6 separate regions of the Homo sapiens genome follow, and all the other regions are linked to region 6. The links come from fine-mapping of genetic effects on gene expression. A gene starts in region 6. Each other region holds a variant in brackets. All regions are shown on one strand. Distances are from middle to middle. Region 1 overlaps CACNB2 (calcium voltage-gated channel auxiliary subunit beta 2). Region 2 overlaps NSUN6 (NOP2/Sun RNA methyltransferase 6). Region 3 overlaps NSUN6 (NOP2/Sun RNA methyltransferase 6). Region 4 overlaps ARL5B (ARF like GTPase 5B). Region 5 overlaps NSUN6 (NOP2/Sun RNA methyltransferase 6). Region 6 holds the start of NSUN6 (NOP2/Sun RNA methyltransferase 6).

Evidence for each region. PIP is the estimated chance that this variant, and not a neighbour inherited with it, causes the effect. A credible set is the group of variants that fine-mapping cannot tell apart.
Region 1: its variant is the best candidate, but not a certain one, in a credible set for the expression of NSUN6 in CD4 T cells (CEDAR, PIP 0.90).
Region 2: its variant is the best candidate, but not a certain one, in a credible set for the expression of NSUN6 in whole blood (INTERVAL, PIP 0.56).
Region 3: its variant is the best candidate, but not a certain one, in a credible set for the expression of NSUN6 in whole blood (INTERVAL, PIP 0.75).
Region 4: its variant is the best candidate, but not a certain one, in a credible set for the expression of NSUN6 in whole blood (TOPMed, PIP 0.59).
Region 5: its variant is the best candidate, but not a certain one, in a credible set for the expression of NSUN6 in whole blood (TOPMed, PIP 0.74).

Annotation. Positions count from the first base shown.
Region 1 is chr10:18,526,716-18,530,807 of GRCh38, reverse strand. It overlaps CACNB2 (calcium voltage-gated channel auxiliary subunit beta 2), which reads right to left. Exons shown (of 14, transcript NM_201596.3): 10 at 3,111-3,220. The region is part of intron 1 of CACNB2-AS1 (CACNB2 antisense RNA 1); the gene reads left to right. Among named protein-coding and RNA genes, the nearest start is that of CACNB2-AS1, 11 kb to the left of the region's middle. The variant T/G (reference allele first, on the strand shown) is at 1,666.
Region 2 is chr10:18,544,212-18,548,303 of GRCh38, reverse strand. NSUN6 (NOP2/Sun RNA methyltransferase 6) reads left to right here. Exons shown (of 11, transcript NM_182543.5): 10 at 67-192; 11 at 2,159-2,743. The coding sequence ends at 2,371. Among named protein-coding and RNA genes, the nearest start is that of CACNB2-AS1, 7.0 kb to the right of the region's middle. The variant A/TTTTTTA (reference allele first, on the strand shown) is at 2,436.
Region 3 is chr10:18,617,426-18,621,517 of GRCh38, reverse strand. All of the region lies in intron 3 of NSUN6 (NOP2/Sun RNA methyltransferase 6), which reads left to right. Among named protein-coding and RNA genes, the nearest start is that of NSUN6, 32 kb to the left of the region's middle. The variant T/A (reference allele first, on the strand shown) is at 1,916.
Region 4 is chr10:18,676,577-18,680,668 of GRCh38, reverse strand. It overlaps ARL5B (ARF like GTPase 5B), which reads right to left. Exons shown (of 6, transcript NM_178815.5): 6 at 1-4,092. Among named protein-coding and RNA genes, the nearest start is that of ARL5B, 19 kb to the right of the region's middle. The variant G/A (reference allele first, on the strand shown) is at 1,920.
Region 5 is chr10:18,549,623-18,553,714 of GRCh38, reverse strand. It overlaps NSUN6 (NOP2/Sun RNA methyltransferase 6), which reads left to right. Exons shown (of 11, transcript NM_182543.5): 9 at 1,744-1,892. Among named protein-coding and RNA genes, the nearest start is that of CACNB2-AS1, 12 kb to the right of the region's middle. RefSeq lists an enhancer at 662-1,163. The variant C/G (reference allele first, on the strand shown) is at 2,217.
Region 6 is chr10:18,649,273-18,653,364 of GRCh38, reverse strand. NSUN6 (NOP2/Sun RNA methyltransferase 6) reads left to right here and starts at 1,778. Exons shown (of 11, transcript NM_182543.5): 1 at 1,778-2,236. The coding sequence starts at 2,162. RefSeq lists an enhancer at 1,539-1,638.

The DNA of each region.
Region 1 (4,092 bases), 120 kb after region 6:
AGGACTAAATTAATCCACATGCAAAGCTTCCGTTATAGTTACTGCAGTACTTGGCCTACACTAAGTGCAGACAGTCCATGACTTACGATGGTTTGACTTAAAGATTTTTCAACTTTATAAGAGTGTGAAAGCAATATATGTACAGTGGGAACCGAACTTTGAGTCCCCATACAACCATTCTGTTTTTCACTTTTAGTATTCAATACATTACATGATATACTCTACACTTTATTATAAAATGGGTTTGGTGTTAGATGCAGTTGGTTTGCCCAACTGCATTTTTTTTTTTTTTTTGCATTTTTGTACTTCTTGCATTTTATTATAATAATATTACAGCCTCCTCCTTGGCTCACTCTTTATTCCTTGGTCTGCTGCTGCTTTTAGAATTCTCAACCACTGACCAGCCATCTCTGTCTGTCTATATATACAAGATTTTGTCCATGTCTTCCTGTAAAACAAACACTATGAGAAAGAGGACTTTGTGTCCTTCACTTTTGTGTCCCTGGGCACCAAAATAATGGCTGGCACATGGTTGGTATTCAAGTATTTGCTAAATGAATGAATGCCTCCAGTCTGTACATGGTCTCCTACCACCTTAAGAATAATGACATGGTTTGGCTGTGCCCACCGAAATCTCATCTTGAATTGTAGCTCCCATAATTCCCATGTGTCACAGGAGGGACCTGGTGGGGGGTAATTGAATCATGGGACTTGGTCTTTCCCATGTAGTTCTCCTGATAGTGAATGAGTCTCATGAGATCTAATGGTTTCATAAAGGGGAGTTCCCCTGCACATGCTCTCTCTTGCCTGCTGCCATGTAAGATGTGACTTTGCTCCTCCTTCACTGTCTACCATGATTGTGAGGCCTCACTAGCCATGTGGAACTGTGATTCCATTAAACCTCTTTACTTTACCCAGTCTTGGGTATGTCTTTATTAGCAGTAATTCTTGTGAGCGTCAAATGATGTGTGGAAAGAGTTTTAAGTGTGATAGATAAGGACATAAAAAAGAAATTGCTATAAGCGAAACACATGATCACATTTTTTCCTGAGAACAGACTAATAGAAATAAGCTCCAACCTTTTCATGTCTTATGCCTGCCTCTCTCTGTCATGTCATCTCCCATGTCCTTCTTTTTAAAACAATATATTTTAGCTTAAATGAAGCACCTATGTTTTTCAGAAGCCTGTTGTGGCTTTCACTGTCTCGAATCACTGTCACCCTCTCCACTCCTTTCCCTTTTTTCTTGGCTAAATCCTGTCATCTTCAAGTCTCAGCTCAGGATCAGCTCCCTGGAAAAGCCTTTCCCTGTGCCTCCTGCAGCAACAGCTCTTTGGCAGCCAGTTCATGGCTCGACCACTTTGCTCATCACCCTCTATCTCAAAGGGCTCTTCACTGATTCGCCTTATGGCTACACCCAGCTCCTTGAGGGAAGGGGCTTCATCAGTTTCTTTTTTTATTCATGGGCTTCCACATGATATTTGGTATCTAGTGTATGCTCAATGAAATACATAGACTGGAAAATTCATTTAAAAACAATGTATAATCAGTAGTTGTAAAAAAAATCTTGGCAATCTAAGGAAATCTGTTATGTAATTGATTCCACTGATGAGTCTAAAAAATTACTTGACTTTGTTAATTCAGTTTAATTTATGAAATAAGCATT[T/G]TATAATAATTCTTGGCCAGGCACAGTGGCTCATACCTATAGTCCTGGCACTTCAGGAGGCCAAGGCAGGATTGCCCAAGCCTGGGAATTGGAGACCAGCGTGGGCAACATAGTGAGACTCCCTCTCTACAAAAAATTAGCCCAATGTAGTGGCATGTGCCTGTAGTCCCAGATACTCAGGAGGCTGAGGTGGGAGGTTTGATTGAGCCCATGAGGTCAAGGTGCAGTGAGCCATGATCCACACCACTGTACTCCAGCCTGGGTAACAGAGTGCGACCCTCTCTCAAAAAAGTCAAAATAAAAAGTAATTCTTGTGAGCATCAAATGATGTGTGGAAAGAGTTTTAACTGTGACAGATGATAAGGACATAAAAAGGAATTGCTATAAGCAAAACACATGATTACATTTTTTCCTCAAATATATTTCTAAACCTGTTACTGAAGTTTTGCCAACGAAGGGTTGTTAGGTGAGAAACAAAACTGAGTTCTATAATGTATCATGCTCATTGCTAACATATAAAGCTTATTATTTATAATAGTTTTTCTGTTATTTATATAATCATACTTCAGAGTAAACGAAGAACTTCTATGTTAGAAACCAGCCTCTCAGAGGATTTGTATATCTAACCTATAAACAGAGAAAAATTAAGCTCAAAGATCTGACACAACTCTCAGAAAGTTTACTTTATAAAAACAGAAACCTAACCATCCAGTAAGCAACATGTGTAACAGTGATTAACCTAAAACTCCAAGCACATACCAAAAAGATTAAATAGCAGCTGAAGGGTCTCAGTGTGATCAATTCAGTATACGTTAATAAGCAGTATCCACATACCATCTCTGTAAACACAATAACTCCCTACACTGTTTTTACAAATAAAACAAACATATTGATATCTATCAATAAATATAGCCAGGAATTGACTTCATCTTTTACTAATTTCCACACCCACAAATTACACTCTCCTGAGAATGATTTCATTATTGATATATAACTGGAATTAAGGAATATTTAGGATAATAATGGATATCATTTATTGAGCACATATCATGTTTAATCCTTGCAATGATTCTATGAGGTAGTTATTTTATTTCTTTTTTAGGATGAGGAAATGGAGGCTTCAAAAGGTTAATAAACTTGCTCATGGTAACACTGATGCAAAGCCAGGAGATCTTAGAGTCTGCAGACACCAAAGCTCATGTTAGTGAAAACAAACCACAACCAAAACATTAATGCTGACAGCCTGTGGAATTCTTAACTTGAAACTATCATAACAAATCCTTCCACACCATGAAATCAGTAAGACCATAGCAACAGCGACTGGCAGCACACACCTGTTTTTTCTATACTCTGTGACACATGGAATTATCATCTTGTTAGGTCTTCTCATCATCAACATCGGGAGAGGAGAGTTTAAAAAGCTTAAGCTCATTGCACAGACTTACCTAAGCTTGACCTTGTGTTGGATCTTTCTATTATTGCGTGCTTACTGGGATTGTTTAATACCGAGCGTTTGGCAAGCGAGATGTCAGCGGTGACCCTTGTGATGGATATCCTGTTGGAGGAAAAAGTCACAGAAGACCTTAAGGTTATTGGTCTAATCAAAGGGGATAGAAGTGTATGCCCCAAATTCATCTAAGTATGAAATATATATAGCAACCATATTTTCAAACCATATGTGTTAGGATACTTACTTATTCATTTTTTTTCTTTTTACTTATTCATTTTTATCTTGCACCTGCCTTACTTTGTTTTTTGTTTGTTTTGAGACAGAGTCTCGCCCAGGCTGCCCAGGCTGCAATGCAGTGGTGCGTTCTCGGCTCACTGCAATCTCCACCTTTCAGGTTCAAGTGATTCTCCTGCCTCAGCCTCTGGAGTAGCTGGGACTACAGGTGTGTGCCACCACACCCGGCTAATTTTTGTATTTTCAGTACAGAGGGGGTTTCACTATGGAAGCTGGTCTTGAATTCCTGGCCTCAAGTGATCCGCCTCCCTCGGCCTTCCAAAGTGCTGGGATTATAGGTGTGAGCCACCGCGCCCGGCCCTATCCTGCACCTGCCTTACGTTGCACTTACTTGTTGCTTACAAGTGTCAGATAAGTACTGAGCACTTTATTTGAATTACTAAATGATCCAAAAAGCTCTAGGAGAAACGTTTACTATTATCCCACTGTTGCTGATGAAAAATGAGACTCACAGAGAGATTTTTTATCCAAGGGTATGTATGTAACTAAGTGGGAGAGCTGGGATTTGAACCCAGACTCCTGACCCTATATTCCTAGTCTCTGTGCCATAGTTCATTGCTGTGATAGGCATGAAAAATAAATAAGAACCAGTCTTCCCTCAGATAGCTAATGGTCTAGTGGCAGAGATAAATAATAAAGGAAAATAATTAAAGATGATGATTGTTGTGGAAAGAACATACAGG
Region 2 (4,092 bases), 110 kb after region 6:
TTTGAAATTCATTCATATGTTTATCTGGTCTTGTGCTGTGTGTGGTCTGATCACAGTTTTCTTTAGGCGGTTCAGCTGCTGAAGCCAGAGGGTGTGCTGGTTTATAGCACGTGCACTATAACACTGGCCGAAAATGAAGAACAGGTTGCCTGGGCCCTGACAAAATTTCCTTGCCTTCAGCTTCAGCCCCAGGTAGGAGTAATTTCATTTTTCTCTGTGTAATAAGATAAATCACAGAAACTGAAGCACTGTGGTAATCAGGGTGTTAACGAAGAGATAAGTAAAACTTCCAAAGTGAACACTGTAATAAACAAGAATGCTTATCTAATTAAATCCACTTTAGACTGCCCATAATTTGCATGTCCTGACAAAGTTTTTTCTCATCTTTGTTCCTGCCATTGTGTTAAAATGGCACAGAGCTTGGGAGTGTTTTTGTTATGTGTTTATTCCCCTTGTAGCTATTCATGTTACTCGGCACCTTTTTTCTAAAAAGATTTTTTTCTCCTTCCCAGTCCTGTATTTTTCTGACATGGAAAATGTTGAGCATTTTCTCTCATGTCACATCAAAGCTCAAATGAGCTTTAATAACTGTGGGATATCAGAAGACCAGCTGAAAGGGAAAAAAGTATTTCTGGATTATTGCTTATTATATAAAATGTATAATATTTAAAAAGCTTTGCTATACTTTCTTTTACCTAACACAACTCTTTATGTTATGGTCTTTATTAGAAATGTATTTTTGATTCAATTTTTAGTCCAGGATATTTGAGATTAAGTTTAAATCTGTAATAATGCTCGCATACATTCAGATACATTGAGCATCTAACTTTAGTACCTTTCTATACAGAAATTAGGTAATGGGAATACATAAATAAAGACAATTCAGAGATGGTTTCTAGTCTCGTAAATTAAGATAATTACATTGTAGATGAAAGGAAGACTTCGGAATTCATTTGGAAATATACACACACTCAAAATATATACCTAAAAGGGATGGGAAGTTTTCCCCTGACCTCCATGGGATAATAAACGATCTGTTTTCTTAAGTATATGTCTGAAAACCTATCTTCATTAACATGCAGATGATTGTCTGTGATGGTGACTTAGGATTATAGATCTTCTTCAGTAGTTTGCAAGTATCATTCAATGCCTTATGATTCCTCTAAACTAATTGATACAGCCTTAAATTATGTTTCCTTTCTTATGTTTGTTTTTCTAGAAACTTTTCTCGCCCAACTGGTATGGGTCAGAGAGAGGTACCTTAGATGCCCAAAGACCACCTTTCAGTTTTGGAAACTGTTAAATAAAGCTGAATTTTTTCTGTTGCTTTCTTTTTTCTTTTTTCTTTTTTCTTTTTCTTTTTCTTCTTCCCCTCCCCGTCCCCACTCCCTTCCTTCTCTTTTCTTTTCTTTTCTTTCATTTTTTGTTTTTTGAGATGGAGTGTCACTCTGTCGCTCAGGCTGGATTGCCCAGGCACAATCTTGGCTCTCTGCAACCTCTGTCTCCCGGGCAATTCTCATGCCTCAGCCTCCCAAGTAACTGGGATTACAGGCATGCACCACCACACCTGGCTAATTTTTGTATTTTTGGTAGAGACAGGGTGTCACCTTGTTGGCCAGGCTGGTCTTGAACTCCTGACCTCAGGTAATCAGCCCGCCTCGGCCTCCCTAAGTGCTGGGATTATAGGTGTGAGCCACTGTGCCTGGCCTTTGCTGCTTTATTGATAATAATGTTCCATTTACTGAGTCCCTGCTATATGCCAGGTGTGATACCACCTTCGTTACTTAAGCCTTGTTTAATAGATGAGGAAATGTGGTTAGTTAACATTACCTAAAGTCACACAGCTAAAATGTGGTAGAGCTGCAATTTGAGTCCACTTGTTTCCAACTAGGAAGCTCAGGCCTTTGATAATGTCACAGTGTTTGATAAGCATGTAATAATAGGTATTTGTTCATCAGGTGACGCATAGTATTGCTTTCCTACTTTACTGTCTGGAAAGCAGCACGTATGTTCCACCAAAATGAAAGGCATTTACTCATTTTTCTATTTTTGGAAGATGTAGTCGTTACAGCCCAATTTGTCTTTTAACTTAAATTGTAGCAGTCATACTTGCTAATTACAGGATGTTCATCCATATTGATCCACTTTCTCCAAACAGGAACCGCAGATTGGAGGAGAAGGAATGAGGGGAGCTGGGCTCTCATGTGAACAGTTGAAACAGCTGCAGCGATTTGATCCATCGGCTGTGCCATTACCGGACACTGACATGGACTCTCTTAGAGAGGCCAGAAGAGAAGACATGTTGCGTCTGGCTAATAAGGACTCTATAGGTTTTTTTATTGCAAAATTTGTAAAATGCAAAAGCACATAGGAGAGGGATGGATGCTCAGAAATGAAAATTCCAAACATTTGCTGTCTGTGGTTTTTTTTTTTTT[A/TTTTTTA]ACCAAAGTGTTGTCAGGCCAACTGAATGATGATGTGGTTGCTATGGAAACAGAAAAGGCTGCCAGCTGTTTTACCAGGGATCCAGAGACATAGAGGAAGTAGGGGGTGGTATGAGATTATATTTTCTGTTTTTAAAAGATTTTTTTTTTTTATGTATTTAGTAGAGTATAAAGAAAAGCAGATGCCTATAGATGTCTGGAGCATATTTTCATTTGTGATCTAATGTTTTAATTTGTAAAGTGTACAAGTCATTTTTAATGTTAAAAATTAGTGAATCTAACAAAAGGAATAAATTAGCAATATTTGATGTGGTTATGAAAAGTTGTTTTTGTTTCTAGGTTCCTAGTTTCTTAAGGATTCAGGGCATGGGAAGTAAAACATTGACTATGTGCCAATAATGGAGGTAAGTATTTTACCTGACTCTCTGTCTGCTTATTTAGTAAGTCAACCCCCTTTCAAATGAAGTCTGGACCTCCTCTGAATGATAGTGTGAAGTGATAGTCTAAAGACTATCGTAGTCTAAATGGTAGTCTATGTTCAATGTTTTTCATAATTTTAAACGAAAAAGTAAAGTTAGTATTTTCTTTACTTTGTAGATTTAGAAAATGAGATTATTCTACAATTTGGATAACTTATCATGTATTTGAAACATATCAGTTATTAGAAAATGCTTGGTGAGAAAGAAAAAACCAGCTCTGGCAGCTGGGAAGTGGCCTGACCTGACCCTTATAGCTGGGCCTTGGTGTTCTCCTGTTGAACGTAAGCAGTTTCACCTATCCCCAACATCAGACAAGGCAGCCGTACCTATCATAGATCCAGACAAAAAAAGACCACAATCAAGTCTGAATTCAGACAAAAAGCAGATCATCCTTCGAATTGCAAAAATCAAGCATCCCACTGTAGTGGCCAAAATAAGTGACTGCTTTTCAATTTAATTTTACTTTTTAAAGACAAGGTCTTGCTCTGCCACCCAGGCTGGAGTGCAGTGGCATGATTTCATAGCTCACTACAACCTCAAACTCCTGGGCTAAAGCAATCTTCCTGCCTCAGTCTCCCATGTAGCTAGGACAACACAGTTGTGTGCAACCATGCTTGGCTAATTTTTTTTTTTTTTTTTTTTTAAAGAGATGGGATCTTGCTTTGTTACCCAAGCTGGTCTTGAACTCCTGGCCTGAAGCAGTCCCGCTGCCTTGGCCTTCTAAAGCACTGGGATTACATATGTTAGCCATTGCACCCAGCCAGCTTTTAAAAAAAACATTACAGCCTTAGGATTTTGCCTTCCTATTGGCTTTTTAGATCAATCAGAATACTTACTTCCCAGCCATAGTTTTAAGGCTGTCTCATGGTGTTAAATCCATCATACTGTTTTGTTAACTTTCATTCAAATCACCCAAAAGTTATTAGGCCTTGGGCTTAAGAAATGGACAATTGGTTAATAGTTTGATTTCCGCCCGCCCCCCCGCCCCGCCCTCCACAGGTTTTCTTTAGGAATTTCTCATAACTATTTATTGTATCCATAAGGATTGCAAGGTCTCTTGGATCAGGTAAGACCTTTAGATTGCCTCTTCTTTAAAGGAGGCTTTCTTGAATACCTTTCCCTGAGGTTGGATAGGCACTGCTCCCCTTCTCTGTGCCCCTGGCTCCCACATCTAATGT
Region 3 (4,092 bases), 32 kb after region 6:
CCTTTCAACAATGCTGACTTAAATATTGATACTTGCATATGACATACTGTGTTTTTATATTGTCAGTCCTGGTGTCTATGGATCCCCAAGACCATTCCTTGGTTCTGTGATTCTCTAAGAGGAATTAGGGAATTCAGCACATACTTGTACTTACGGCTATGATTTGTTACAGTGAAAGAATATGAAGCACAATCAGCAAAGGGAAAACCATCACAAGCTTCCAGAGTCCTCTTCCAGGGGAGTCACACAGGACTCCCACAGGAAGTCCCCCAGTGCTGAGCTGTGACCACATGAGACTCACTGCCAGGATTCCTATTCAGGGCTCATCATGTAGATTCCCACTGCCTGGTACATACCCACATTCTGGATTCTCAGAAGGAAAGCTGGTATTTACTATAAATCATAGTTTGTTCAATAATTCAGGCACAGTGAGCCACTCTTAGCAGTTAATAAGTAAACCTCCTGAAATCTCAGTTCCCAGATGTCAGTCAAGGGCCAGCCTTGTAAGCAGGCTTTTCAAAGATAACAGATCAGGCCTACTATGTTAACTTTTTTCTGCACAGTTCTCTGTTCCAGAATTCATCCTTTCCCCTCCATGTTATTTTCATAAAATCTAACACTACAGATTTCACTTCCACAAAACATGTTTTTGAATTTGTGCTATATGTGAGATGTGATGGTGTTACAAAGATGAATGAGACATAGTTCTATAGTCTAAAGTCAGGAGACTTTGGTACAAGTCAGACTGTTATGATAGTCACAGTAGAAGTATAAATTAAATGCTATTGGAGCATAGAATAGGAAGGACTGAGTACAAAGAAATTGTTAAATATTTTCTCTAAGCAGATATTATTTCATTTGAGTCTTGAAGGTGAGGAGAAATTAGGCCGAAGGGCTGTTAAGGTGGGCAAGGTTATGCTAGGCAGAGAGAAGGCATGAGGAAAGACATGAATGCATGAAACATTGGTGGCTGCTGATAAAAGTGATCAGGTTTGGCTATTTGTTTTCAGAGTTGGGGGATGGGTGAAAGATGAAACTGAAGAAGTTGGGAGAGGCAGATATGAAGTATGAAGATTTTTTTGTACCAAGGAATTTTTTTTTCATAGACTTAAGAAGCTAAAGAATTTTTATTGTCGGGCGCAGTGGCTCATGCCTGTAATCCCAGCACTTTGGGAGGCCGAGGCGGGCGGATCACGAAGTCAGGAGATCGAGACTATCCTGGCTAACACGGTGTAACCCCATCTCTACTAAAAACACAAAAAATTAGCCGGGTATGGTGGCGGGTGCCTGTAGTCTCAGCTACTCAGGAGGCTGAGGCAGGAGAATGGCGTGAACCCGGGAGGTGGAGCTTGCAGCGAGCCAAGATGGCGCAACTGCACTCCAGCCTGGGAGACAGAGCTAGACTCCGTCTCAAAAAAAAAAAAAATTTTTTTTATTAGTAAAAATTAGATGTGTATTTTAGAAATATAATAGTGGTAGTGGTCTTCCAAACTGCTTGGAGATCATGACCCATTAGTAACTTGTGAAATCAATTTAATGTTTTCAATGAATATTTAAAAAAAAAGGGATGTTTTATAATATATTGCATCGCACATAGTAAAAATATTTAATGAAATGTTATGTGTGATACCACACACACAGACATGTATGTGTAGTTTCTTATATCAAGATCTCAAATGATATAAAAACTTGAAATAAGTTCTTTTATCAAGTGTGTTTCTTACATCAACTGACAGTCAAAAGTTTCAGAAATTTTTTCAAAAGTTGAATTGCAAACCTGGAGAAAAGTTAGAAAAGTATTTCCGAGTTTTTTAGCTTCAATAATATGTATGGTGAATTAGATAACATGAAGATGTTTTTGCTACATACACCGAGGAGTGCTAAGTAAAAAAGAACATAGTAGGCCACAAAATGA[T/A]GTAGTTGAGTGATTAAAAATGTAGTTGATATATTAGAGGTTAGGAATGCAGAATAATTGAAAAGAGAACAGCAAGCATGTGAGTTATTATTGGGGGGTTGAAGGTATGGGAAAGGAGGTGGTCTTTCTTCTAAATTTAGGGTCTTTGGTTTAAACAATTAAGTGTTAATAGTAAGGGTGAGAAATACCCAGTAGTCATTACAAGGCAGTAATTAAAAGTAGGTCTTTCTTGCCTTAGGATATAGGTTGGAGAAAAATGTGTTTCTGAGAATGCGCAGCCGTAAGTTCCCTCCGTCATAAAGGTCTGGAATGCAAATTGCTGCAACCTAAATTGGAACCTGCAAACTGGGAAATTAACTGTTTGGTCCCAAGCCAATTCCTGGGTACTTGGCAAAAACTAAGTGACACCACTCTGGAGCAGCACTCATTCAGTCCAAGCCAAACACTTGGCATTGTTAAAAGCTACACTGGGAATCAAACCACTATGAGTAAGAATCAGCATATATAATAAGCTGCAGGATTGGATTTCCCTCAGAACTTTTAACAAATAGACCTCTCTGGCATAGACTATAAAAACAGTTTTCTTCCAAGATCAGCTGAGATCGGGCATGTTCAGAGTGATATGGCTGTAGACAAAACAGTTTTCTTAAAATGATTAAAAATGAAAGAGTAAAACATAAAAGACCCTAAGGATAAAAAGGTAGAATTGAAAACAAATTTCTAAAAATAAATTATCATTAAAATTAAAAACTCATACAATGAATTAAACAGCAGATTAGACCCAACTGATGAGAAAGTTTTTGAATTAGGAGATGACTCTTAGGAAATTATCTAGAATGCAGCAGAGAGAAATTAAAAATATGAAAGTGAAATTGAGTCATGAAAAAGCACTTTACGTTTCTTTTTTTTTTTTTTTTTTTGAGATGGAGTTTTGCTCTTATTGCCCACGCTGGAGTGCAATGGCACCATCTCGGCTCACTGCAACCTCCACCTCCTGGGTTCAAGTGATTCTCCTGCCTCAGCCTTCCAAGTATCTGGGATTACAGGCATGCGCCACCATGCCTGGGTAATTTTGTATTTTTAGTAGAGACGGGGATTTCTTCATGTTGGTCAGGCTGGTCTTGAACTCCCAACCTCATGTGATCCACCCACCTCAGCCTCCAAAAGTACTGGGATTACAGGTGTGAGCCACTGCACCTGACCAGCATTTATATTTTTAATGAGTCTCAGGTATAGAGAATAGGAATAATGGGGGAAAGACAATAATCACAAGTGTAATGACCATGAATTTCTATCACTGATGAAAAATTTAAGAAGTGTGAGCTTGAAGCCAAAAGTAAAAGTAGATTCATGTCTACATACTTCAGAGTGAAGTTGCAGAACACCAAAGACAGAGAAAATCTGAAACCAGTGGTAAAAGGCAGGAAGCTATTTCAGTAATCACAAAGAGATATGTGTCCAACATCAGGAGATACGCCCACAAAACCTATCAGAACTAGAAGATAGCTTGATTCCTAAATCAATCAATGTGAAGGCTTAGGAGGACTTTAAGATGACGCTGAGTGTCTTAGTTTATTTTTTGCTGCTATAGCAGAATACCTGAGACTGGATAATTTATAAAGAACATAAATTTGTTTTTTGTAGTGTTGGAGGATACGAAGTCCAAGATCGAGGCATTTGCATCTGGTGAGGGCTTTCTTGCTGCATCTGTACATGGTAGAGGGCACAAGGGCAAGAGAAAGCAAACTCACTGCTGCAAGCCCTTTTTATTATAGCATTAATTCATTCATGAGGGCAGAGCACTCATGACCTGAACAGCTCCCAATAGGCCTCATATTCCAACACTGTTGCACTAGGGATTAAGTTGCCAGCACATGAATATTGGGGGACACATCCAGACCGTAACACTGAGGCATCTAGTTTGGTTATCTGGGCAGATAATGACGTCTCATTCAAGATTGGAAACAGGATGAAAAGATTTGGGATCCTGCCAAGGAGTGGAGGAATGGATGAGGGAAAACTGATTATTGTTTAGGACTTGTTGAGTTTGAAGTAACTGTGAGACGTCTCTATATAGCTGTCCGTAGGTAATTAGAAATACTAATTAAGAGTCTAAGCTGGGCGTGGTGGCTCATGCCTATAATCCCAGTACTTTGGGAGGCTGAGGCTGGTGGATC
Region 4 (4,092 bases), 27 kb before region 6:
AGTCATAAATAAAAGTTTTTGTAACTACACTCAACAGTTTACTCCAAGAGAATAAAATAGGGGCTTCAGAGTCCCTAAATTTCCTGAGGGAAAATATAAGATTAAAATGATTATGGTCTCTTGTGAATAGGGCTTAAATATGCAAATAAGTCACTGATGACTGGGATCAACTGATAGTCATTTGATATCTTACCAACACTGATGGAAATATATTCACAGTATAAAAGAATCCATCAAATTTAGGATTTCTCCTTTCCCTTATCTAATTAAACTAATTAAATATTGACTGAGCACTTTCCTATGTGCTTTAATGAAACCATATGTGAATCTCATATATCTACCATGTTGGCCCAGCTGGTAAACAAGAGTAAAACAAAACAAAGTCTCCAAGGAATGCTATCCCTTAGTTATGAATTTTGCATATTTCAAATACAGTTTGGGTGAAGGGGGTTTTTATGGGATGGTACAAACATCCCACAAACTTGAGCAAAGCACCTTATGGATTGAAAAATGAGGTAATTTTTTAATTAAAATTTTACAAGTTGTGCAAGAAAACATATCCATTCTTTTAAAACTTTGTTTTCTATTCCAAAAGCTATGCACAGCACATTTCATATTTCTCCATTTCCAGGAGAAAATGTAGATTACTGGTTTAAGAAATGCAAAAGATGCCTTTATGTGACTACAGTTCCAAATTCTAAAACCCTAATCAGTCTTCACTCCTTTGGCCACATTAAGAATAATACAGGCCATCTAGCTGTATGGTAAAAAGACAGTATTTTTTAGTAATTTTAAGTACCCTAAATACGAGGAGAGGCAGAAATTCACTGCTTTCATTCACATTTTCTCTTACCTAATATCCTTTTGAAGTTTTTTCGACCTCATGATATTGTCTTTACTTTCAAGTGCTTTGAATTTGTTTTTCGTATGCTTCTAAACCTCCAAATTAATATTTCCCAAATGTTTCACCAAACTATATACATTTAAAGCTGCCTTTAGGTCTGAGGGGCACAATTTTTTTTTCTGCTTTAAATTTAAAATGGAATAGTTGAACATATTTTTTTATATTGGTCTTCCTCTATTTATTTTGGTCCCCTAAAATTTTTTAAAAATACTTTTTTGGGGAACCTGGCTTTTGGATTTCAGTCTTCACAGTAAAAGTGAATGAATAAGGAGGAGACGCTACTGAAAAACTAACCTTGAATATAAACCACTTTCAGATTTATGTAGACATTTATGTAGACATTTGTAAAAGACTGACAACCTGGCTACTAACCCTACTCTTTCAATATGGAAAGTCACACAGAACTATAGACTGGGGTGGCATCAAACGGCAATAAACTCTGAACAAATTAACCACTTCCATTCAATTAGTACAAGCCAAGAAAATAAGGTAAATTATCTAGAAGAGAATTATTTCCAACACAGGCTGGTTCTTTCTAAGCAGCTTACTATCCTTTTCTTAGCAATATGGCTTGTTTTCTCTTTTGCATTGTCATTAGCTATTTCTATTCAGCTATTAATTCGCTGAATTTAAGTTGAATAGCAGTTACTGATACGTTTTTCCCTACTTGGTTGTATTCGTATTCTAAATAAAATAACAGGTGGGAATCAAATAATGGATAAAAATACATTTAATTTCATATTACCTGTATTGCCCTACTATTTGAGGGATTTTTAATTTTTAATAGTAGTATATAAGCATTCAGAATTTTAAAACCAAAAGACATTTTAGAGCTGTAGTTTAAGTTCCTCAGTATGGGAAAAACAAAAGGAAAGCCATGGACACTAATTGTCTAAGGTCAACTAGACAATTGAGAAACGGCCAAATTAAGGCTCAAATCCACTTTTTTAGATGGCTAGCACAATATTCTACTAGATACAAGACACCATGCTGTATCTTGAAGTCACTTTACCCC[G/A]GCAAAATGTAAAATAGCCTTTAGGACTGAATTAGAGTGAAGTTTTTTTGGTTCCAAAGCTGTAGACAAAAAGTCTGCCTCATAAAGTTGGTCTCCAAAGATAAATTCCAAAGAAATTTATCCATCTTTAGACACGACACCAGCACATTTTTCTACTGATACGGTTTTACATAGTTAAGGACTAAATAAAAATTGATTATTCAGAATGATTATGTTTATAATTTGTTCTAAGAAACTACACTAAAAAGATTTTTTAAAAAAGCTTCTATATTCTTTAAAATTTTCTTTGTGACCCCCACAACTTTTCAGAGAATATTGTTTACAGCACTGCCTATCACTGTTTCCATACTAAAATAATTATTTTCTCTTTATGCTATAATGAAAGTTAAATTATGCTTAATCAAAATGACTATGGCTATGGGGTGGCACTCATTTAAAATTTTTCAGCAATGAAACTTAAATTTATTACCTTTCTTCTAATGAATATAGAATAAAAGTATTGATACCTTTAAGCATACTAACACAAGAAACTAAAAGCAAAAATTACATATTTAATCTTCAGCTTTTAATAGATTATATATATTAATATTCCAGGTTTTAAGGAATTAAGTTACATTAACAATAAAAAATATTCCATATATTCCCTTATAAAAGGTTCTATTAATTCTAAGAGTTCTCAAATGGGCTTCAATAAGAATGATGGGTTTAAAGATGAAGGACATGACACGCTCAAAATTAAGAAAAATGCTGTATTTGAACTTGCAAGGATAATTGAACACTTTGGTTATAACATACTTAAAAGATTTCTGTTAAAATTTAATTTCCTTGTTTTCAAATTAAAAGGTAGAACAGTCTCCTGAAGGTAATGTAGGTGGGTCCCTTGCTTTTCACTTACTATAAACTGTGCTAACCAATACATGGAGGTGAAGGGGGATATAAAACACAAATTATTTCATCACTGAAATAATTAGCTGCTAACATGACTTCTAAAGAACAGGTATAATATAAAACTAAGAACTTATTTCAAAATATGAATAAAGGCACTAATTACAAATGTACATTTTTTAGACAGTATCTTACAGTTCACTGATTTACAATGAATGTCAGAACCAATGCTCTAGTATTAGATACTTGCTTGGGTTAAAACATTCTCTTGGAGTAAAGAATAATCAGTTTTCACGTTACTGTGACAGGAAAGATTGAGTGAAAACCTAAAAAATACTCTTAAAAAGTCTTACATGAATTTCCTAATCATGAACTTTTCCCAATCAGCACCGTCTACACTGATGCCAATTTCATCTTCAACACATGGCTAACATAAATCATTTCTAATCCAAAACTAACCAAATATTTTTTAAAGGATTTACAAAATAAATTGTATTTTAAAAATTAAATAGCAAATTTGAGTCTATACTAGTAGTTGGCAAAATACAATCAACTATTAAAAACACTTTTAATATAATGCTGATGTGGTAATATAAAAAATAACCATATAATTTGACAGAAGAAAATTGAGCCAGCCAATCTTACTAGATACAAGAAGGCAGATAGTCATTTCATAAGAACAAATACAGGAGTACTAAGTATGCTTTTTCTCAGGACAGACTTAGGGAAACTACCCTCAGTACTTACGGTAAACAACACAACCAAGCAGAAATTCAGGCAAACTGTGCTTAGGTAAATGGCATTTTCTTAATTCCCCCACATCCCACACACACCACAAACCATCCATATCGATTTATGTCTGCTTTTCGCTCATGTTCTTGATTATGGGTTATATTAAAAACTAAGTTAAACTACACTTATCCTCTACTTGATACAGAATCACTAAGAAAACGGCTTAAAACAAAGTTAAACAACTACTTTCCAAAGCCCAGAAAGCTTTCCTTTGGCCACTGTTCAGTTCAAGGGTGTGCTCCAACTAAAGATAAATCAGAAAAATGTTACCACATTCGACTAAATTAACTTGACTAAATATAATAAACCAAGCACACCTGAAAAAAGAGCAAAATTTAAATCAACTTACAAAAATATTAAAATTAAAATACCAATTTTGAACACATATTTTGATATTATGAACTTTGTATCTTTTTTATCAAAATTAAAAAGTACTGCAAAAATGAAGTATTATTCTCTAAGTATTCATTTTATCCCTTTCATTTCAGCAAAATCA
Region 5 (4,092 bases), 100 kb after region 6:
GTTACATTTCCATTCCATTCTGCATTCCTTTTCATTTTCCACTACATTCCATTCCATTCTCCATTCCATTCCATTCTTCCTTCCATTCCGTTCCACTCCATGCCATTCCATTCCCTATTCCATTCAAAACAATCTCCATTCCACACTCCATTTCATTCCATTCCATCCTCCCTTTCATTCCATTCTCCACTCCATTCCTTTCTCCGCTCCATTCCATTCTCCATTCCATTCCATTCTCCATTCCAGTTCATTCTCCATTCCATTCCATTTCGCATTCCATTCCATTCTCCATTCCATTCCATTCTCCGTTCTGCATTCCATTCCATTCTCCTTCCCATTCCCTTCCATTCTCCATTCCATTCTCTTCCATTCTGCATTTCATTCCATACCATTCCCCATTCCATTCCATGGAATGGAGAACGGAACGGAATAGAGAATGGAATGGTATGGAGGATGGAATGGAATGGAGAATGAAATGGAATCGAATGGAGCATGGAATGGAATGGAGAATGCAATGGAATGGAATGGAGAATGCAATGGAATGGAATGGAGAATGGAATGGAAGGGAAGGGAGAATGGAATGGAATGGAGAATCGAACGGAATGGAATGGAGAATGGAATCGAACTGAAGATGGAATTTAATGGAATGGAGAATGGATTGGGAAATGGAATGGAGAAGGGAATGGAATGAAATGGAGAATAGATTAGAGAATGGAGTGGAATAGAATGGAATGGAATGGAATGGAGAATGGAATGTAATGGAGAATTGAGTGGAGAATGGAATGGAGAGTCGAGTGTAGTGGAATGGAATGGAAGGGAGAATGGAATGGTGAATTGAGAATGGAATGGTATGTGGAATGCAGTGTAGTGTAGAATGGAATGTAATGGAGCATGGAATTGATTAGGGAATTTGAATGGAGAAGAATGGAATGGAGAATCAAATGGAATGGAGAATAGAATGGAGTAGAGAATTGAATGGAGTGGAATGGAGAATGGAATGGAACGCAGAATGGAATGGAATGGGGAATGGAATGGAATGGAATGGAGAATGGAATAGAATGGGGAATGGAATGGAATGCGGAATGAAATGGAATGCGGAATGGAATGGAAATCTTGGTAGCAGGTAGACAGCCCAAATATGTAAACAGACCACTTGGTTTCACACCTTCCTCCAATAATATTAAATAGATTAGAAGTTAGAGAAAATTACTGAAGTGAATGCAAAGGAAAACTTCGTGGAAGATTGAATCTAGGGGTGGTACTGGCTCATTCTCCCTATTCTAGACCATAGCCATTCTCATGGCCACAGAAACAAGGAGACTCAGGAACACAGAATCAGTGTGTTTCACAACAGTCAAACAGGCATTTTCTTGGGGGCTGTCTTCAATAGGAATTACCAAGAGAAGTATCCATTTCCAGAACAACTAGAATTAATTCCAAGTCCTAGCTTTGATGAGTTGTGGCTTCTGAAGTTTGGGGTAGAAGGTCTTTTGTGATTAGGCCTTGGTTTGTACTATATCAACAGAATAACTTTTCAACTATAACTACATTTTAAACCTTTCTACCACATCAAATCTGTATTAGGTATAAGTCAAAATTAGTTTAACCAGCTACTTGATTGAAGGGAGAAATTGTTTCATTTTTTTATTCTAGATTATGATTTTAAATTCCTGCTCATCTCAGGAGTTTTCTAGTTTAAACCTATATGGAAGATAGTAAACATGATTATAATTCTCTTTATAGGAGAACCTCCATTTCTACCAGAATCCTTTGACCGAATTCTTCTGGATGCACCCTGTAGTGGAATGGGACAGAGACCAAACATGGCCTGTACTTGGTCTGTGAAGGAAGTGGCATCATATCAGCCATTACAGCGAAAACTCTTCACTGCAGTATGTGGTGGTCTGTTTTTGTGAAACAAAGTTAACTTTTGCTACTTTGATGTTTAAACTACTGACAGCAATCTCCATAGCAGCGTTCATTACAATAGCCAAAAGGTGGGAACAACCCAAGAGTCTGTTGACAGATACATGGATAACAGAATGTGCTATATCCATACATGGAACATTATTCAGCCTTCAAAGGGAATGAGATTCTGATACAGGCACAACATGGGTGAACCTGGAAAACATTATGCTCAGTAATATGAACCAGACACAAAAGGAAAAATGCTTTAAGATTTTGCTTATATGAGGTAGCTGGGAAATTCACAGAGA[C/G]AGGAAGAAGAATAGATACTACCAGGCATTGTGGGGCTGGGAGATTGAGGAGCTATTGTTTAATGGGTATAGACTTGCAGTTTGGGATAATGAAAAAGTTCTGGAGATGAATGGTGGTGATCATTGCCCAGCAATGTGACTGTACTGAATGTCATTATTGACTTAAAATGGCTAAAATGATAAATTTTATGTTATTTATATTTTACCACACACACACACACACACACACACACACACACACACACACACACACAACTGAGAGGACCTAGTTTTAAATATAGGAAGTTTTCATTTAAGTTGACTCACCTTTAAGATATACAGGCAATAGTAGAATTTCATCACTGAGATATTTAATAAATTTCAAATATTCTCTATCTGAAAAAAGTCACTGAGTTGTTAACTTGTAGTTACTAATTGATGTAAAGAATTAGATATAAAATAAATTACTCTTTTTTTTAAAAAAATAGAGTTATTGGCTAGTATGGTGGCTTGCGCCCATCATCTCAGCACTTTGGGAGGCTGAGGCGGGCTGATCACCTGAGGTCAGGAGTTCGAGACCAGCCTGGCCAACATGGCAAAACCCCGTCTCTACTAAAAATACAAAAAATTAGCTGGGTGTGGTTGTGGGCGCCTGTAGTCCCAGCTACTCGGGAGGTTGAGGCAGGAGAATTGCTTGAACTCGGGAGGCGAAGGTTGCAGTGAGCTGAAGTCATGCCACTGCACTCCAGCCTGGGCAACAGAGTAAGATTGTCTCAAAAAAAAAAAAAAAAGAGATTTTTTGGGGGTCGTCTTTAGAAGAAGGCCCAATAGGGAGCAAAACTCATTGATAAAAACAGGAAGAGACAGTGGCCAGCGTAGGATATAGGAGAACCATAAAAACTGTACAAATTTAACTTGTCTCCAGCACTTTCAGAAGCCCAGATAGAACATTTGAGGATTTCTCCTAGTCTTTCAAAAATGACTCAGTGGATTTCAGCGTGTATAGGCAGTGTTTGATCATAGATGAATTCATTATTTCCTCCCAGCCCTCCAAAATACAAGGCTAGAGCAACAATGGATGTTCTATAATGATTTAGTTTCTAAAGCTGCCTTTGAGTACATTCTGATTCAACTCTCCTGGTGTTTCCTTTCATATACAAAGGTAGCACTGGTTGTGTATTATTTAACTTCGTCTTTTTCTATGAAGTCTTCGAAGAACTCATCCTCAGAATTAAAACAGCAAGCAGCAAAAAGGAAACTTTAGTTACAGCCGAAACCCACTTTGACTTGAGAATAAAATTAGGATACTTCTGTAAAGGACTTGGATTTCTGTTCTTATTAGGTCACAGCAAAAATGGTATTTTAAAAGGCTACTAGGAGTAGATGAATGATCTCAATGAGAAGGAAAAGCTGACAGTATATCAGAGAGAACTAGAATATAGCAGGTTTGCCATTTGGCATGGAGAGAAATCGAGAATGTGGACTTGAGCCTTGTTGACTTGAGCCATGGCTCTTCCACCTAAGTGACTTTAGGTACATTGTTTTCTATATCTGAGTAGCAGGGATAACAGCTCTACCTATTAGGAATACCTCATTGGTGATAGTCATCTTACTTTGTGGTTGTTATAAGGATTTATTGAGAAAAATTCATATACAGTGTTTCACACAGTAACTGGCACATAGTAACAAAGTTTAAATTTTGATCAGCATACTCTGATTTAAAAAGCACAAGTATGTATACTCTATTTTTAAAGATTTCCTTTAAATTTTTAAAAATTAGGAGCTTGAAAAGCTGAACTTTAGGTATTTCAGACAAGTCCATTTTAGCACAATACCTTATCTCCTGATTAATTTATTCAACAAATACTCATAGATCTCCTGTATGTAAGACGCTATT
Region 6 (4,092 bases):
CTCAATTCTGTCCGTGTGTGGCACTAGTGAAGTAATTTCTGGCAAATGCTTTATCAGCATTTTCTTTCCATAGTTTATAGAGATGTTCATCCATCTTTTCATTTAGTCATTCAGTAAGTATTTGAGTGCCCATTATGGATTAGGCTTGGGTACATAGTGGTGTGATAAAGTCTCTATCCTTGTGGAGTTTAAAATGTAGTTCAACTTGTTTCTCCTCCTTTATCGCTAAAATACAGATTCTAGCCATCAGTGGTGCTATGGTCACCATGAAATTCAGGCTACAGAAATTCCTTTGGAAATGTCTGATTTAGACATTTATCACTTTCAGATGTTTTAGCCATGAAAGAATCTCATGGATTTATTGAAGAAATATGCTATGGTCAAGGACAAGGTATTGGCTCTAGAAGCCAAATTACTAGTCTTTATCCTGGCTTTTTATTTGTGAGAACATGGAGAGTTGTTTCAACCCTAGGAACCTTGATTTACTCTTTAAAACAGAGAAAATGGGCTGGGCGTGGTGGCTCACGCCTGTAATCCCAGCACTTTGGGAGGCTAGAGAGTCAGATCAGTTGAAGTCAGGAGTTTGAGACCAGCCTGGCCAGCATGGTGAAACCCCGTCTCTATTAAAATTACAAAGATTAGCTGGGCCTGGTGGCACATGCCTGTAATTTTAGCTACTCGGGAGGCCAAGGCAGGAGAATCTCTTGAACCAGGAGGTGGAGGTTGCAGTGAGTCGAGATCCCACCATTCCACTCCAGTCTGGGCGACAGAGACTCAAAAAAAAAAAAAAAAAAAGAGCAGAGAAAATGATAAACAACTTGCAGGTTGTTGTGTGGTATAATGGTCATTCATTATTTTCTACTCTTTCTGGTAAAGAGTTGGTGTGTCATGGAAAGTACCTGTTCTATGTGTGTGTGTCTGTGTGTATAATTCGGTGTGAAAATTAAAGAGAAAAAAACAATAAAAAACCCTTTCCTATACTTATGTGTAAATTACCATGGTGTGCTGCAAAAAACATATGTCAAGGTGATAGAATTATTTTGACTTTCCTGTACAGTTATAAAATGACTCAGTGAGTTTGGTTAGATATCCTCGTTCTTTGAATCTATATCCTTGTCTGCTTATGATGAAAAAAAAGAAAAAAAAATAATGGCGAGGGTCTTCCAAACTCTAAAGAATATGTCAACTATGATACAAGTAGCAGTTAGCCTTATAACTAACTGTAAACACTGTCTGTGGGTTTTAAGTTTTACCTGAGCATTGGATATTAACAGACCATTAGCCCAACTTTCAAAAATATGAACCCTATGAACTTCACAACTGAAGTCAGATCTGTATGCCTGAGAGAGGTAAAATCATGTCATGAAATCAAACGGTGGCTGATGCGCCCAAATTCTGGCCTCATCCTCTAACTGGAGGACATCTGGCAGGACAGCAACTGGGCTGTGCCTTTTTTCAGTCCAGCAACATCTTCCACTCAACCCACGCCATTTGGCTGTTTCCCCATTGCCCCTGGCACCTAGCCCTCCGGTACCGGGAACTAAATATCTTTGACCATCCCGCCCGCGGGGTCTGCCTACTTAACCTGAGGCAGGTGAAAGAGCCTCACGCAGGGTTAGGAACCTCCGGGGGCGTGGCGTAGCGTAACGCAGTGTTGGGGAAACTTGCGGCTGTGGATTGGGGGACCGGAAAGGGAGGGGTGGGCCGCAGGCGCCGGACGTGACGTAAGCCGGAAGCGACTTTCCGCCGAGAAATAGGGGGCGCGTGTTTGGAAATTGATAGAAAAGATAAAGGGACCGAGCTGCTGTCAGCCTGGCTTACTGATCTGCGTCCGTTTCACCACGGATTCAGTTACTAAGCATTTTTTTCTTTTTTTGGTTCTTTGCAACGTGAGTGGCATTGGCTCAGTGATTTCCATGAGCATCTCTACCAGAAAACATTGCCTCGATGAGGTGTGGTGGAAGCCCGGCAGCCCCTTCTAATCGGCTAGGCTTGAGAAAGCGTGTACCTCTGCATTTCCGAAATTAACTCAGCGTGATCGGCAAGATTTTCCTCAGCATCTGGTGTCAAGACACTCGTCACTATTAATTCGGAAAGAAAAAAAAAAACAAAACACCGTTTTCCAGCATTTCTCTTGGTGGAGAACTAAACAACAGGAAAAATGTCTATTTTCCCTAAGATATCTTTGAGACCTGAGGTTGAAAACTATCTTAAGGAAGGCTTTATGAATAAGGAGGTAGGTCAAGTAAAGATGTTAGTTGATATTTTGCAAAAACTCAAATATTCGCACACTCGAGAGAAATAGAAATAAGTATAAAGGGAAATCTTGACAGCCGTCGTTCCTTACTACTTGTCTATCAAGTGTAAAAATACCAATATGTTTCTACAGGTATTAAAGCTTACTGAGATACGAAGTGAATAAGGTATATGTTTTAACATTTAGGAGTGGAAAAGAAGGGAAAAAAGGCATGTGCCTGTCAGGCATGGCACAAAGGGTTACAAGGATGAACAAGAAAAGGTCCCTGTCTTCAAGAACTCGAATCGAATTTTAAAAGAGCGCTGGCTCTGGCACTCAGGTGAAAAGGTTTCTGTAATTTGTTGAGTGCCTCTTAAATGCCAGCAGTTGTGCTAGGAGATTTGCATCTTTAATCTTCACAATCTTTTTTTTCTTAGAGGTTTTTCCTCTTTTAATAGACTTGAGCAGAAAACTGCTCAAGGAATTGTGTAACTGATCCAAGTTGACACAGCTATCAAGTAACTATTGAAATCTGGAGGGAAAGAGTTCAGGTGTAATGAACAAAGGTACAGCTTTTGAATCTCAGGCACATGATTTGCATTCTAGTGCTTTGTAAATTACGTGGCTTAACCTAGATTTTTCTCTTCTGTGAAAAATTGAGAATGGTTAAAAATATCTTGCCAGGTTGTTTTAGGATATTAAACGTAAGTGAATACAACTAGCATTGTTTTGGCATGTAAGTCCTCAAAAAATGTTAATTTTATTTGCTAAAGTCCTCAGTAAATGTTGATTATCTTTGATTGCAAAGCCTGTTGTCTATTCCATTTTACCATGCTGCCTCTAAGCAACTTTGTTTTTTTTCAAATCTTTAATTTTTTAGTCAAGTTAAAAATATTTTACCAGGTTGTTTTAGGATATTAAACGTAAATGAAAACAACTTGCATTGTTTTGGCATGTAAGTCTTCAAAAAATGTTAATTTTGTTTGCAATTGGCAGTGCCTGCCACAGAAGTCCTCAGTAAATGTTGATTGTCTTTTATTGCAAAGCCTGTCCTCTCTACCACTTTACCATGTTGCCTCTAAGCAACTTTGTTTTTTTTGAAATCTTTAGTTTTCTTAGTTAGAGTAACACCACTTAAATGTTACTCATTTTTGAATATGTTATTGAAGCCATGCCTTTTAGATTTGATTTCTACGTTTCATTTCCAAAGATTAGCTTGAGGTACTAGACTGTATGGAAAGAGAAAATATATTCTGTTGATTTCAAGGGACTTAAAATATAAGGCACATATTAGGAGAAGTAGGGGCATACCACAATTTTTTCAGCAGATTTTAAAATGGAGAACGTCGTTTTATAAAGAAGATCCAAACGTCTTTCTTTGACACTGCCTCTGCCTCGAGTCTCATCAGTGGTATGGTTTTACAAAATGAAAAGCTATGCCTTTGTGAAAAGTACTGAAGGGAAAGGAATATTAAGTTTTATGCCTTTTTTTTTTTTTTTTGAGACAGGGTCTCCCTCTGTTGCCCATGTTGGAGTGCAGTGACATGATCACAGCTCACTGCTGCTTCGACCTCTGGGACTCAAGTGATCCTCTCACCTCAGCCTCCCGAGTAGCTGGGACCTCAGACAGGGGCCACCACTCTGGCTAATAATATTTGTATTGTTTGTAGTGATGGGGTTTCACCATGTTGCCCAGGCTGAATGTTCAGTTTTGATAAGACTAAACCTTGAGAAAGTATGAATACTTTTAAGGCTGGTGCATGAGTAGGCTAACAAGTGGTTTGTGAAGATTCTGTAAAGCAGGGTTTAGTCAAATAGGAAGACAAAGAAATACGTTTCTTGAAAAGCTTCGGTTA